Linked DNA regions of Homo sapiens: region 2 is linked to region 1. A link means that fine-mapping ties the variant in region 1 to the expression of a gene that starts in the linked region. Tissue or cell type: whole blood. Region 1 holds a variant in brackets; the other region holds the start of a gene. All regions are shown on one strand. Distances are between the middles of the regions.

Region 1 (8,100 bases):
GAGTAGCTCAGACTACAGGTGTGTGCCACCATGCCCGGCTAATTTTGTAATTTTTTCTGAGATGGGGGTCTGTAGTCCAGGCATGGTGGCTCATGCCTGTAATCCCAACACTTAGGGAGGCCGAGGCAGGCGGATCACTTGGTGTCAGGAGTTTGAGACCAGCTTGGGCAACATGGTGAAACCCTGTCTCTACTAAAAACACAAAAATTAGTCGGGTGTGGTGGTGCGCACCTACAATCCCATAGCCTGTAAAGCTACTCAGGAGGCTGAGGCAGGAGGATCACTTGAACCCAGGGGGCAGAGGCTGCAGTGAGCCAAGATCACGCCACTGCCCTGCAGTCTGGGTGACAGAGCGAGACTTGTCTCAAAAAAAAAAAATTTGTTTAAAGTAAAAATTAAAAGAGATGGGGGTCTCACTGTGTTGCCCAGGCTTGAAGTGCGTTTCTTCAGCTTATTTTTATCCTCATCACAGCCCAGCGTAAATGCTGTCAGCCTTCAAGTGGTGCCTTCTGTGTTCATGCTGCAGTAGCCTTGATTCATGTGCTGAGGGACAGCCCCAGATAAGCTTGCAGTGAGACAGCTCAGACCTGGGGTGCTGGGGACAAGAGGCAGCAAGGATGGGACCGTCTGCAGCCATAGGCATAGGGAAAGGAGTGGGAGAGGCTGCTCTTGAATTCCAGGCCAGGGACCATGTTCGACTCAGACCCACTGCCCACCTGGTTGCTGCACCCTGGAAAGCCTGACTGCCCCCACAAGACCAGTGACACCCACACAGCTCTCTGTGCAGGGAGCCAAGGGTGGTGTGTGCAGAACAGGAACAGAAACAAGCATCCCACAAGAGAGCTGGAGGCAGCAGCCCTCTGTGCCCAGCCCGAGATCCGCAACGCATAGGTGCCATGTCAGCACACAACTTACACCAGCTCAAAGCTGGATCGACAGCAGCGCCCAGGGTTTTGGTGATTATAACCACCCTGCAGGGGTTCTTCTGAGTACGTCTTCAGGTTTCTTGTGTAGTTTTGTTAGAAGGGATTTTAGTGGCTCCAGGGCCTTAGGACCCTAGTGTGCAGCGAGGAGTGTCCACAGAGACCCTGCCCAGTCAGGCCCTACTTTAGGCTGGAGCCTGTGGGCTTATCTTCAAGGATTTTACAAACACTTCTGACAGGAGGCCTTGCAGGGAGATGATGCTGAGTTGGGACTGCGCACAGCCAAGGAGACCGCAGCAGTCTTCTCTTTCTGGCTCTTGTCACTTTTTCAAACTGTTTCTAGCTTTGTTTAAAGGCAAGTGTGAAATGACCCAGCCAGTAGTAATTAATTCTCAATTAAGCTGTCTCTCTAGAAGTGATTGGAAAGTTTTCTAAGATCCACTTAAAGGATTTATGGCCTAGATGTAAAAAATTTCAATTAAAGAGGAATGTGTCAGCCTTATTTAGAATGACAGCACAGGTAATTTTAATGTAATAATAAGTGCACGTTTTTATTTACAGCTATTGGTTTTCCTTTTCTTCTTCTCCTTGATGGGCCTGCTGTCGTCACATCTGACCTCAAATGTAAGTCAGACCTTACCAGCCAAGGTGTCCTCTCCCACTGTGGGCCAGGCAGGGGCACCAGGCAGCCAGCTTCCAAGTCAGGGTTTCCAGACTAGCTCAGGAGCTCCTTGTGTTTGCGGAAGTGTGAGTGAGAACTCCCAGGCCGTGGGTTTTTTTTTTTTTTTTTTGAGATGGGGGTCTCACTCTGTCACCCAGGCTGGAGTGCAGTGGTGTGATCTCAGCTCACTGCAACCTCAGCCTCCTGGGTTCAAGCAATTCTCCTGCATCAGCCTCCCGAGTAGCTGGGATTACAGGCGTGAGTCTGTCACACCCGGCTAATTTTTGTATTTTTAGTAGAGACGGGGTTTCACCATATTGCCAGGCTGGTCTTGAACTGGCCTCAGTGATCCGCCGACCTCGGCCTCCCAAAGTGTTGGGATTACAGGCATGAGCCACTGCATCCGGCCTGTGGGCCTTTCTTTTAATGTCTTATTTGAGGACGTGGTGCAGCAGCCTTGGTGTGGGTGCTCGAAGTCCCTGGCCTCCTACCTGAGCCTCTTCTGTCCAGAGGCCCAGTATTACCTTCTATAGGTAAAACTGTCACCAGTTTTAAGACTTACAATAAGCAAAGAGGAAATGCCCTCTTCTGTGCTGAGGGCTGTACCCTCCTACCCATGGGAGCACCAGGTCGGCCATTCTCAGGGTTGGTCTCCTGCGGTTTACAGAGCACCACAGACCTGCCAAAGGCTTTCCACGTTTGTGCAGCAATCCTCGAGTGTTTAGAGAAGAGGAAGATATCCTGGCTGGCACTCTTTCAGTTGACAGAGAGTGGTAAGAAACACGCTGCTGAGGCACAAATGCGGAGGGCCGCTCTTTTCAGAGGCATCTTGCAAATGGTTAAGAACGAGCCCTCCTTGAGGTTCCTTGCTAAGTAAGTTTATAAGCTCCATTTTAGTTGGGACAGATTAAGCACAAACTTGTTTAAAGCAATAAGATAATTTACTGGCTCACTGGTCAACCCCAGGACCAATGGGCCTATCATGGGGACTGCCTCTCTCTGCACCACACCCACCCTCCTGCAAGAGGTCGACCCCCCCATCCTCTCCCAGCTGCTGACAGGTACCTGGGTATCCTCAGCTCAGGCTGTTCGCCCCACACTATCCCCACAGCCAGGCCTCCCAGGGTACACGTCCCGACCCCCAGGGGTGTCCCCAGCACTGATAATAGGCAGAGATGTCCAGAGTTGCCTGAGCCACTTCTTGGTGTTGCAGACCTCAGGCTGGGGCGGCTCCTCCTCCGTGTGGCCCCGGATCAGCACACCAGGCTGCTGCCTTTCGCTTTTTACAGGTACCTCCACCCACAGGGCTGGTCAGGGCTGGGCAGTGTTTCCCAGACCCCCATCTCAGCACCTCTGGGTCCCGCCAGATGGGAAGGGTTGTCTGTGCCTCTGCTCCACAGATGAGCAGTATCCCTTGGCATCACCTGCTACCTTTCCAGCAGTCTGTAGCCATTTGTCACTATGTCTTTACCTCTAGTCTTCTCTCCTACTTCCATGAAGACGCGGCCATCAGGGAAGAGGCCTTCCTGCATGTTGCTGTGGACATGTACTTGAAGCTGGTCCAGCTCTTCGTGGCTGGGGATACAAGCACAGTTTCACCTCCAGCTGGCAGGAGCCTGGAGCTCAAGGGTCAGGCAGGTGCAAGGGCCAGTCCCACCTCCAGGGGAGCTCCCCCCAGCCGGAGGCTCCTTCTGCCAAAGAATGTTCCGGCACAGCATGCAGACTATGGGGGACACACCAGCCCTGTTTCTGTATGTCTTCTAACCTGTGAGTTTGCCTGTTTTCTCTCTAGGGCAACCCCGTGGAACTGATAACAAAAGCTCGTCTTTTTCTGCTGCAGTTAATACCTCGGTGCCCGAAAAAGAGCTTCTCACACGTGGCAGAGGTAACGTCAAGATGCCCACCTTGGGCCATGTGGGGGACATGAGAATTGACAGCTGCCTGGGCCATGTGCCTGCCTGGCTGGCAATACAACTCGACTATTTCTGCCAGAGCCCCTCCCCTGTGGTCTGAGGCCTAGTGGGCGGCATGGGCTGAGGACCTGCTCCTCTCTCACAGCTGCTGGCTGATCGTGGGGACTGCGACCCAGAGGTGAGCGCCGCCCTCCAGAGCAGACAGCAGGCTGCCCCTGACGCTGACCTGTCCCAGGAGCCTCATCTCTTCTGACGGGACCTGCCACTGCACACCAGCCCAGCTCCCGTGTAAATAATTTATTACAAGCATAACATGGAGCTCTTGTTGCACTAAAAAGTGGATTACAAATCTCCTCGACTGCTTTAGTGGGGAAAGGAATCAATTATTTATGAACTGTCCGGCCCCGAGTCACTCAGCGTTTGCGGGAAAATAAACCACTGGTCCCAGAGCAGAGGAAGGCTACTTGAGCCGGACACCAAGCCCGCCTCCAGCACCAAGGGCGGGCAGCACCCTCCGACCCTCCCATGCGGGTGCACACGAAGGGTGAGGCTGACACAGCCACTGCGGAGTCCAGGCTGCTAGAGGTGCTCATCCTCACTGCCGTCCTCAGGTGGGTTCGGGCTTCACCGCCTGGCCCTCTGTGGTCACAGAGGGGCTCGGTGGCCCAGGTGGTGGTTCCGCCTCCAGGGGCAGGGCCTTGTCCTGGGTCTGTGTCAGCGGGTGCACCATGGACATGTGTACATTGAGGTTGTGGGCCTTCTCAAACCGCCGGCCACACTGGTCACAGGCAAAGTCCAGCTCAGTCTCAGCCTTGTGTTTGGTCATGTGGTACTTGAGGGATGCCCGCTGCCTGCACTGGAACCCACAGACCTCACACCTGGGGGACAGAGGCAGATAAGAAGGTGCGAGGGCCACAGCCCTGGGAGGGGGTCCTGACTCACACTTACTGCAAAGGCTTGGCTCCCGAATGTCGCATTTGGTGGACGAGAAGGTGCTTCCGCTGCTTGAAGGTTTGTCCACATTCGTCACAGATATAGTTCCGCACCTCTGAGAGGGGAGAGTCCAGTGAGTCCAGGCCCCTGATGCTCCAACCTCCCGGGGGGACGACGATGACAATGTGAAACCATCACAGCTGGGAAGACATTTCTGCACATGGTTCACCATGCAGTGGGCCCAAGCAAGGGGCCTATGAGGGCCTCGTTTATTAAGATCTTTAAACTGCTTTATACACTGTCAC[G/A]TGGCTTCATCAGCTGTGTGCATTTCAGGATGGTTTTTAAAGAAACCTCAGAAAGCTATTTCCTTAACCACAGATTCTTGTCTTTTTTTTTTTTTGAGATGGAGTTTCGCTCTGTTACCCAGGCTGCAGTGCGGTGGCGTGATCTCAGCTCACTGCAACCTGCGCCTCCCAGGCTCAAGCGATTCTTGTGCCTCAGCCTGCCAAGTAGCTGGGATTACAGGCGCCCCCCACCACGCCCAGCTGATTTTTGTATTTTTAGTAGAGACAGGGTTTACACCATATTGGCCAGGCTGGTCTTGAATTCCTGACCTTGTGATCTGCCTGCCTCGGTCTCCCAAAGTGCTGGGATTACATGTGTGAGCCACCGTGCCTGGCCTACAAATTCTTAAAGGAAGCCGTATCACTAAGGTTGTATAGAATACTGATTGTCACAGCTATGGCTGTTCTCTAGAATTCATCTCCATATGAGAGGGGTCCATACCCAGGGTCTGGGGGTATGCATTGCTGTACTGGCTCTGGAAATCTTTCTCACACCCTTGAACAAAGAGATCTCACTTGCTAGTCCACAAATGCCACATGTGGACATGCAGACCCACTCACCCTGTGCTGCCTCCACATCTGTCAAGCCCTGAAACGCTTCACAAGACAGACTTTTCTCTTCGAAGGGAAACCCTATCTTGGCATTTTACTCTACGCTGTTCTTTTTTTTTGAGACTTGAGTCTTGCTCTGTTGCCCAGGCTGGAGTGCAACAGCCCAATCTCAGCTCACTGGAAACTCCACCTCCCAGGTTCAAGGGATTCTTTTTTTTTTTTTTTTTTTGGAGACAGGGTCTTGCTCTGTTGCCCAGGTTGAAGTGCAATGGTACAATCATGGCTCACTATAGCCTGGAACTCCCAGGCTTAAGTGATCCTCCTGCCTCAACCTCTCAAGTAGCTGGGACCACAGGTGTGCACCACCACACCCAGGTAATTTAAAAAATTTGGGGGGCCGGTGCAGTGGCTTACACAAAGTGCTCAATCCCAGCACTTTGGAAGGCCAAGGCAGGCGGATCATGAAGTCAGTTCAAGACCAGCCCCAGCCCAATCAATATGGTAAAACCCTGTCTCTACTAAAAATACAAAAATTAGCCAGGTGTGGTGGCACACACCTGTAGTCCCAGCTACTCGGGAGGCTGAGGCAGCAGAATTGCATGAACCCAGGAGGTGGAGGTTGCAGTGAGCTGAGATTGCACAGCTGCACTCCAGGCTGGGCGACACAGACTGTCCCGGAAAAAAAAAAAAAAATTGGGGGCTGGGCACGGTGGCTCATGCCTGTAATCCCAGCACTTTGGGAGGCCAAGGCAGGCAAATCACCTGAGGTCAGGAACTCGAGACCAGCCTGGCCAACATAGCAAAACCTGCCTCTCTACTAAAAATAGAAAAATTACCCAGGCGTCATGGCTCACGCTTATAATCCCAGCACTTCGGGAGGCCGAGGCAGGTGGATCACAAGGTCAGGAGATTGAGACCAGCCTCACTAACGTGGTGAAACCCCGTCTGTACTGAAAATACGAAAAATTAGTTGGGTGTGGTGGCCAGCACCTGTAGTCCCAGCTATTTGGGAGGCTGAGGCAGGAGAATGGCTTTACCCCAGGAAGAGGAGCTTGCAGTGAGCTGAGATTGTGCCACTGCACCCCAGCCTGGGCGACAAGAGCAAGACTCAGTCAAAAAAACAAACAAACAAACAAAAAAAAACACCCCCGGCGTGGTGGCAGATGCCTGTAATCCCAGCTACTCAGGAGGCTGAGACAGGAGAATTGCTTGAACTAGGGAGGTGGAGGTTACAGTGAGCCAAGATCGCGCCACTGCACTCCAGCCATGGTGATAAGAGTGAGACTGTTTCCATCAATAAATTAAAAAAAAAGTTTTTGGTAAAGACGGCCTCACTATGTTGCCCAGGCTGGTGTCAAAATCCTGGCCTCAAGCAATCCTACTGCCTTAGCCTCCAAAGTGCTGCGATTACAGGCATGAGCCACTGCACCCGGCCCAATTTCAGGTTTTTAAGGAACTGCTGGTTGTGACCATCAGTGACCGGACAGATGCAGAGTCTGAAGGACCAAACCCAAGGAAGTGCTGCCATCAGGAGAGATGTCGGAGAACCCAAAAAATAACAACCCGCATGTCGGGAGATGACCCAGCAGTGAAAAGCAATCCTAATGAAAAAATACTTCAGTAAATTCAAGTAAGAATAAATAATTCTTATTCTGTAATAAGTTCAAAACCAAGGAAAACTGTGTGTGTAAGGATCAATATACAGTTGTCCTCAGCTGGTTCCAGGCCCCCCCCCACCCCTTACCAAAATCTGCTCATACTGAAGTCCCGAAGTTAGCCCTGCAAAGACCCTACAGAACCTGCACTTAGGAAAAGGCAGCCCTCTGAATACCAGGGATTCGAGTCCCTGACCATGGATATGTGGGTCCACGTGGTTCAAACAAGTTTTTTTTTTGAGACAGTGTCTCACTGTTGCCCAGGCTGGAGTGCAGTGGTGTGATCTCGGCTCACTGCAACCTCCACCTCCGCCTCCCAAGTAGCTGTGCCTACAGGCGTGTGCCACCACACCCAGATAATTTTTGTATTTTTAGTAGAGACCAGGTTTTACCATGTTGGCCAGGCTGGTCTTGAACTGCTGACCTCAGGTGATCCACCCACCTCAGCCTCCCAAAGTGCTGGGATTACAGGTGTGAGCCACCACGCCCGGCCAAGTTTGTCATTTTGAAAACATATCCTTGTTGGATTATAAAAGTAACTTGTGCATTATAGAAATTGTGAAAAATAAGACGGGCACAGAGACAGCACCCTCAGTCATAATTCCCCCATCCGCCTCCGGTCTTAATGACACGACCTACACACATGTGAAAAGGCAGAACCACACGTGCCTCCCGCCTGTCCACGTGGGCAGCTCCCCAGAGCTGGTGTGCCTTCATGCCTTCTGCCTTGCCTTTTAAGATACACTTGTTTGGGCCAGGTGCAGTGCTCACACCTGTAATCTCTGCACTTTGGAAGGCTGAGATCACTTGAGGTCAGGAGTTAGAGATCACCCTGGCCAACATGGTGAAACCCCGTCTCTACCAAAAATTACAAAAATTAGCCAGGCATGGTTGCGGGTGCCTGTAATCCCAGCTACTTGGGAGGCTGAGGCGGGAGAATTGATTGAACCTGGGAGGCAGAGGTTGTGGTGAGCCAAGATGGTGCCACTGCACTCCAGCCTGGGCAACAGAGCAGGACTCCGTCTCAAAAAAAAATTAAAAAATAAAATGACCAATTTGCAAAAGGACACCAAGATTGCTTGGCTATTAGTTTTGACAAACTGCCTAGATCCTGGGGAA
Region 2 (8,084 bases), 79 kb before region 1:
GCCAGGCGCGGTGGCGCACGCCTGTAATCCCAGCACTTTGGGAGGCCGAGGCGGGCGGATCACCTGAGGTCAGGAGTTTGAGACCAGCCTGGCCAACATGGCAAAACCCTGTCTCTACTAAAAATACAAAAATTAGACAGGCGTGGTGGCAGGCACCTGTAATCCCAGCTACTCGGGAGGCTGAGGCGGGAGAATCGCTTGAACCTGGAAGGCAGTGGTTGCAGTGAGCCAAGATCATGCCACTGCAGTCCAGCCTGGGCAACAGAGTGAGACTCCATCTTAAAAAAAAAAAAAAAAAAGAATGCAGAAGTTCCTCACAACTCATGGGCATAATTCTCCCCACACTGCTCAGTGACAAGGCAGAGGCAGAACAGGCCATTATAAAAGATGTGCCAGATCAAAGGACAGATGAACTTTTCTTTTCTTTTCTTTTCTTTTCGAGAGGGAGTTTTGCTCTTGTCGCCCAGGCTGGAGTGCAGTGTCATGATCTCAGTTCACTGCAAGGTTTGCCTCCCAGGCTGAAGCGATTCTCCTGTCTCAGCCTCCCCAGAAGCTGGGATTACAGGTGCCCACCACCACAGCCGGCTCATTTTTTGTATTTTTAGTAGAGACCAGGTTTCTCCATGTTGGGGACGCTGGTCTCAAACTCCTGACTTCAGGTAATCTGCCCACCTCGGCCTCCCAAAGTGCTGGGATTACAGGCGCGCGCCACCATACGCTTTTTTTTTTTTTTTTGAGACAGAGTCTCAATCTGTCGCCCAGGCTGTAGTTGGCATGATCTCGGCTCACTGCAACCTACATCTCCTGGGTTCAAGTGATTCTCCAGCCTCAGCCTCCCAAGTAGCTGCGATTACAGGCACTGGTCACCACGCCCGGCTAATTTTGTATTTTTAGTAGAGATGTGGTTTCACCATGTTGGCCAGGCCAAATTCGAACTCCTGACCTCAGGTGATCTACCCACCTCAGCCTCCCAAAGCGCTGGGATTACAGTCATGAGCCACCCCACTTGTCCTAGACAGAAAATTATCTTTTTTTTGAGACGGAGTGTCGCTCTGTCACCCAGGCTGGAGTGCAGTGGCACGATCTCAGCTCACTGCAAGCTCCGCCTCCTGGGTTCAAGCAAATCTCCCGCCTCAGCCTCCTGAGTAGCTGGAATTACATGCACCTGCCACCACACCCGGCTAATTTTTGTAGTTTTGGTAGAGATGGGGTTTCACCATGTTGTCCAAGCTGGTCTCGAACTCCTGCTCTCAGGTGACCCGCCTGCCTCAGCCTCCCAAAGTGCTGGGATTACAGGCGTGAGCCACTGCGCCGGGCCAAGACAAGAGTTTTGCTCTAGTTGCCCAGGCTGGAGTGCAGTGGCGCAATCTTGGTTTACTGCAACCTTCGCCTCCTGGGTTCAGGCGATTCTCCTGCCTCAGCCTCCCGAGTAGCTGGGATTACAGGCATGCACCACCACACCTGGCTGATTTTGTATTTTTAGTAGAGACGGGGTTTCTCCATGTTCGTCAGGCTGGTCTTGAACTCCTGACCTCAGGTGATCTGCCTGCCTTGGCCTCCCAAAGTGCTGGGATTACAGGCATGAGCCACCACACCTGGCCAATTTTTGTGTTTTTAGTAGAGATGAGATTTCACCATGTTGGCCAGGCTAGTCTCAAACTCCTGACCTCAGGTGATCCACCGGCCTCGGCCCCCCAAAATGCTGGGATTACAAGTGTGAGACACCGTGCCCAGCACCCCTGCCTTTTTTTTTTTTTTGAGACAGGGTGTCACTCTGTCATCCAGGCTGGAGTGCAGTGGCGTGATGGTGGCTCCCTGCAGCCTCAGCCTCCTGGGCTCAAGTGATCCTCTCACCTCAGCCTCCCAAGTAGCTGGGACTATGTAGGGTCCAGCCCTATGGGGCTTAGTGGGTGTTCTCCCCATGTACGGAGAAGAGAGATTGTAATAAATAAAGACACAAGACCAAGAAATAAAGAGAAAACAGCTGGGCCCCGGGGACCACTACCATCAAGACGCGGAGACTGGTAGCGGCCCCGAACGGCTAGGCTCTTTGATATCTATTGCATACATGACAAGGGGGCAGCGTAAGGAAGGTGAATCTTCTAAGTGATTGACAAGGTGAAGCATGTCACGTGATTACAGGATGGGGGCCCTTCCCTTTCAGGTAGGTGAAGCAGAGAAAGAAGGCAGCATACGTCAGCATTTTCTTCTCTGCACTTATAAGAAAGATCAAAGACTTTAAGACTTTCACTATTTCTTCTACCGCTATCTACTACGAACTTCAAAGACGAACCAGAAGTAAGGGAGGAACATGAAAGTGGACAAGGAGCGTGACCAGTGAAGCACCACAGGGAGGGGTTTAGGCCTCCGGATGACTGCGTGCAGGCCTGGATAACATCCAGCCTCCCACAAGAAGCTGGTGGAGCAGAGTGTTCCCTGACTCCTCCAAGCAAAGGAGACTCCCTTTCATGGTCTGCTAAGTAACGGGTGCCTTCCCAGACACTGGCGTTACCGCTTGACCAAGGAGCCCTCAAGCGGCCCTTATGCGGGCATGACAGAAGGTTCACCTCTTGCCTTCCACTCACTTCTCACAATGTCCTTTCAGCACCTGACCCTATACCCACCGGTTATTCCTAGGTTATATTAGTAATGCAACAAACAGTAATATTAAAAGCTAATGATTAATGTTTATAATAATTGATAATTGTCCATGATCATCTCCATAATTTGTATTATGACTGTTCTTATTGTAACGATTTTATTATACTGAAATAGTTTGTGCCTTCGGTCTCTTGCCTCGGCACCTGGGTAATTCTCCGCCCACAGGACTACAGGCTCGTGTCACCACACTGGGCAATACAAAAAATACAAAAAAAAAATTTTGTATTTTTTGTAGAGACGAGGTCTTGCCATATTGCCCAGGCTGGAATTCTTACCTTTGTTACTGTATTTAACGTATCTTTTTCCTCCGGCCATCTTCATGGTTTTCTCTCTGATTTCCACAGTTTGAATACACTGCATGTGTCAGGCAGGGGCTCATATTTATCAAGTTTTGTGTGTGCTCTGAGCTCAGGTCTTTCATTATTTTGGGAAAATTATTGGTAATTTTCTCTTCAAACATTTTTTATGATTTGTTCTTTCTTCTTCTTTTGGGAGTCCTATTACATGCATATGATATCATTTGATATTTTCCCACAGTTCTTGGATGCTTTTTTTAAAAAAAAACTTTTTTTCTTCTTTATTTTCCAACGTGGGTAATTCCTATTTTTCTCAGCTGTGTTGATCCTACTGCTGCCCCATCAGAAAAATTACCTGTTATCAGCGTTCTTCCTTTCTTATAATTTGATGAGTTTCCTCCTCATGCATATTGTTCACCTTTCGTACAAGAGACCTCCACATATTAATCACAGTTAATTTAAATTTCCAGCCTGTTTCAATTTCTCGATCACCTCTGAGTCTAGTCCTGTTAATTGCTTAGTGTTATTTTTTGTTTTTGAAACAGGGTCTTGCTCTGTTGCCCAGGCTGGAGTGCAGCGGCGCGATCTCAGGCTGTTCCCTGAGTTCACACCATCCCCCTCAACCAGCAGATTGCAAAGTGTCCGAGTCGGGCCGTGCAGGAGTCTTTGTGGGGGTTTCATGGACTCCGAATTCTCATTTCTGCTCCATCCCCATCTCATGAATCCAAGGCCCCACTCTGTGCCTCGGCTCTTCGTTTGTGGTGCTGAACGTCATCTACGTCATCTACGCCATCTACGTAATCAACACAATAAAGACGCCTGCCGGGAACGCGGCCCTTCGGCTGAATCCCTTCGGTGGTTCCAAGGCCACTGCCAGAGGATGCGGACGGGTCTCCAGGGCCTCTACTTACCCAGGACTTTGAGGCACATTAGCTTCGCCTAGGCACTCGCTTTTACGAATTCTTATGTTTGGTTTTGTTTTGAGACAGAGTCTCGCTCTGCCGCCCAGGCTGGTTAAAAGATAGGGTCTCAGCCGGGTGCGGTGGCTCACGCCTGTAATCCCAGCACTTTGGGAGGCCGAGGCGGGCGGATCACCTGAGGTCCGGAGTTCGAGACTAGCCTGGGCCAACATGGCGAAACGCTGTCTCTACTAAAAATAACAAAAATCATCCAGGCGTGGTGGCGCGCACCTGCAATCCCAGCTACTCGGGAGGCTGAGGCAGGAGAATCACCTGAACCCAGGAGGCAGACGTTGCAGTGAGCCGAGATCGCGCCACTGCACTCCAGCCTGGGCGACAGAGGGAGACTCCGTCTCAAAAAAAGGAAAAAAAAAAAAAAGAAAAGAAACAAAAGTGATGGGGTCTCGCTCTGTTGCCCAGGCTAGTCTGGAATTCCTGGGCTCAAGCGACCCTCCAGCCTCGGCCTCCCAAAGCGCTGGGAATACAGGCGCGGCTACCGCGCGGTCTCCGGCTGCCGAAACACCGCCCTGCGCGCGGACCGTTCGGCCGCCGGGAGGAACAGCGGCTGCCCGGAGCTCAGAGGCGCGCGCGGCTTTGCGCTCCCCGCGGCGCTCTGAGCCTGCCTCGGCTTGGTTGGCCAGGTGGTCTCTTCAGGACCAACCCCAGTCATTCCCGGCAGGAACCACGCTTGAGGGGCGGCAGTCTGCCCGCGCGAGACGCCCCCGCGGACTACACCGCGGCGGCAAAGCCAAACGCAAAAACTACCTCACCGCGCGCAGGCGCCTCCCCCAGGACCAACATGGCCACGACGCAAGGCCTCGACCTGAGGGGCGTGGCCTGGCCGCCGCCAGCCAACGGGTGTGCGCGCCTGGCCGCAGCCAATAGGAAGGCAGCGCGGGCTCGGGCGCAGGGAGCCGCCGCCGGGGCTGTAGGCGCCAAGGCCATGTCCGACTCGTGGGTCCCGAACTCCGCCTCGGGCCAGGACCCAGGGGGCCGCCGGAGGGCCTGGGCCGAGCTGCTGGGTAGGTGGGCGCGGCAGGCCGCGGGAGTGGGCGGCGTCCGGCCCGGGACGGTTTCGCCGGTTCCCCGATCCCTTCCCGCCAGAGCCTCCGCCGGTCGGATCCCCGGACGCCGCGCCCGGGGGGCTGTGCGGGGTGGGCGCCCGGCTGGGGCGGCGCGGCTGCCTCGGACCCGGCCCCTCCTGCGCCTGGGCGGACGCCCCCAGCCGCCGCCCGCGGGGCGCTCCCTTCTTTCCCGAACGCCGCCCCCGCCGGCCGCCCTGTCAGGCGGGCCTGGGGTGCGCGGCCTGGGGCTCCCCTCAGCGCAGAGGCCGCCCCTCGCCAGCCGTCCCCGGGCTCCCCTGCCTCGGGCCCTCCTGGGCCGTCTTCCCCGGCGTCCGCGGTGGGGCCGTCTCCGTTAGTTTCCCGAGACCTGCGCCCTGGGGAGGAGCCCCGGCCCCTCTTCGGGAGGGTGTCGCTGGTGGGTTTCTCCGCGGCGTCCACCTGCGCGTCGGGCCGGGGACCCCGTGTGTGAATTGTGCTGTGATGGTTTCGAACCGACTTCTCTCCGTAGCGGGAAGGGTCAAGAGGGAAAAATATAATCCTGAAAGGGCACAGAAATTAAAGGAATCAGCTGTGCGCCTCCTGCGAAGCCATCAGGACCTGAATGCCCTTTTGCTTGAGGTAAGAGGAAGCTGGTGTCCGTCTGCGGGCAGATTTAGGTTCGGGGTTTTTGAGTCCAGCCACCGCACAGCTTTCCTAAGAAAACACCCGAGGCGGCGGGCGCGGTGGCCTGGCCCGCAGAGGGGAGGGTCGCCTGAGCCCGGGAGTTCTGGACCAACCTGGGCAACGGGGTGAGACCCCGCCTCTTTTATTAAAAACAAAACAACAACAACAAAAAAACAGGCCGGGCGCCGTGGCTCAGGGCTGTAATCCCAGCTTTTGGGGAGGCCAAGGCGGGTGGATCACTCAGGGTCAGGAGTTCGAGACCAGCCTGGCCAACATAGTGAAACCCGGTCTCTACTGAAAATACAAAAATTAGCTGGGTGTGGTGGCGCACGCCTTTAATCCCAGCTACTCGGGAGCCTGAGGCAGGAGAATTGCTTGAACCTGGACCCGGGAGGCAGAAATTGCAGTGAGCCGAGATCACGCCCCTTGCAATCCAGTCTGGATTACAGAGTGAGACTGTCTCACAAAAAAAAAAAAAAAAAAAAAAAAAAAAAAAGCCGGGCGTGGTGGCTCACGCCTGTAATCCTAGCCCTTTGGGAGGCCGAAGTGGGTAGATCACTTGAGGTTAGGAGTTCGAGACCAGCCTGACCAACATGGTGAAACCCCGTCACTACTTAAAATACAAAAATTAGCCGGGTATGGTAGCAGGTGTCTGTAATCCCAGCTGCTCAGGAGGCTGAGGCAGGAGAATCGCTTGAACCTGGGAGGTGGAGGTCGCCGTGAGTGAGATCCCGCCATTGCACTCCAGCCTGGACGACAGTGAGACTCCCTCTCAAAAAAGAAAAAAAGGAAAATAGCCCAGTAGGGAAGCATTACTTACACACAGGTTGTGTTTATGCACAGATCTTGAATTTTTTTTATTTTTATTTTTTATTTTCATTTATTTTTTTTGAGACAAAGTCTCACACTGTAGCCTGGGCTGGTATGCAGTGGGGTGATCTCGGCTCACTGCAGCCTCCACCTCCCGGGTTTAAGTGATTCTCCCGTCTCAGCCTCCCGAGTGGCTGGGACTACAGGCACGCGCCACCATGCCCTCCTAATTTTTGTATTTTTAGTAGAGACAGGGTTTCACTATGTTGGCCAGGCTGGTCTCGAACTCTTGACCTCGTGATCTGCCCATCTCGGCCTCCCAAAGTACTGGGATTACAGGCGTGAGCCACTACGCCTGGCCTGGAGCTTGAATTTTTTAAATGGAGTTTGTTGTGTTTTGGATTCTAGGTAGAAGGTCCACTGTGTAAAAAATTGTCTCTCAGCAAAGTGATTGACTGTGACAGTTCTGAGGCCTATGCTAATCATTCTAGTTCATTTATAGGTAAGTTATAGCTTCATTTTCTCTATTTTGAATTGCAGAAGGGTTTTTATATAGTAACCATAGTTTGCTAAATTAAGTAGAAATGTAAATTTTCTCAGGCGATGGGTTTCCACTGGTGTGTGTAGTCGCAAATTCTATGGGATGTTTGTGTGACTTGCTCTTGGGCTTCTTACGATGCTGTGTTTAAAAACAGCGTCTGATTCAACCTGCGACTCAGAAGCAGTAGGACCCAGAGTGTCCCTTGGAAAAACATGGGACATAGCAACAGCAGGGATGTGCCCCTTGCTCATGGAAGTAGTGAGACAGGCTGTGGTGTGCCCAGGAGAGCAGACGGGAGAACAATTTTCTAGGTACCTCCTTCTCCCCCCAGTTTGAGAGTGGGAGATAGGGTAAGTTCTGGGTCAACAACAGTAAGTTATTTTCTGATCCTTCACGTCCTTATGTGATGACTTGTTTCTGTTAAAATAACCTTCAGTAATAGCGCTCCCTTGACAACTGGTCACTGAATGTCATTGGCAAATGATACAGATTTTCACTGCCATGATTGTATTTGAATTTCACAAATTGCATATTATCATTCCAAGGAACCAAGCTCAGCCACACAGATAAACCTTTAATTCATTAATTTTTGAGTTTGTTTTTTTCTGCTAAAGATATAGTTAGTACATGCACGCACGTGCACACGGACACACACACACACACACACACACACAGTAAAAGACTTGTAGATAAAAAAACTTTCCTATGGAGACACATTGGAAACAAATGACTAGAAATTGGCATTGTTGGCCTGGCACAGTGGCTCACGCCTATAATCGCAGCACTTTGGGAGGCTGAGGTGTGCGGATCACCTGAGGTCAGGATTCGAGACGAGCCTGGCCAACATGGTGAAACCCTGTCTCTACTAAAAAACACAAAAATTAGCCGGGTGTGGTGGTGGGTGCCTGTAGTCCCAGCTATTCAGGAGGCTGAGGCAGGAGAATTGCTTGAACGTGGGAGGCAGAGGTTGCATTGAGCCGAGACCCCTCCATTGCACTCCAGCCTGGGCAATAAGAGCAAAACTCTGTCTCAGAACAGAAAATGGCATTGTCTACTTTTTTTTTTTTTTTTAACAGACAGGGTCTCACTC

The links. PIP is the estimated chance that this variant, and not a neighbour inherited with it, causes the effect.
Region 2: FANCA starts here. The variant in region 1 is fine-mapped to the expression of FANCA in whole blood (TOPMed, PIP above 0.99).

The regions. Positions count from the first base shown.
Region 1 is chr16:89,734,251-89,742,350 of GRCh38, reverse strand. ZNF276 (zinc finger protein 276) reads right to left here. Exons shown (of 11, transcript NM_001113525.2): 10 at 4,446-4,545; 11 at 1,426-4,375. The coding sequence ends at 4,105. It overlaps FANCA (FA complementation group A), which reads left to right. Exons shown (of 43, transcript NM_000135.4): 38 at 1,485-1,547; 39 at 2,252-2,357; 40 at 2,798-2,873; 41 at 3,062-3,218; 42 at 3,377-3,469; 43 at 3,643-4,802. The coding sequence ends at 3,750. Among named protein-coding and RNA genes, the nearest start is that of ZNF276, 17 kb to the right of the region's middle. RefSeq lists a silencer at 513-713 and enhancers at 847-1,016, 1,132-1,301, 1,544-1,713. The variant G/A (reference allele first, on the strand shown) is at 4,736.
Region 2 is chr16:89,813,391-89,821,474 of GRCh38, reverse strand. It overlaps FANCA (FA complementation group A), which reads left to right and starts at 4,828. Exons shown (of 43, transcript NM_000135.4): 1 at 4,828-4,938; 2 at 5,489-5,598; 3 at 6,862-6,955. The coding sequence starts at 4,860. RefSeq lists enhancers at 4,165-4,214, 4,600-4,894 and silencers at 4,755-5,044, 5,275-5,324.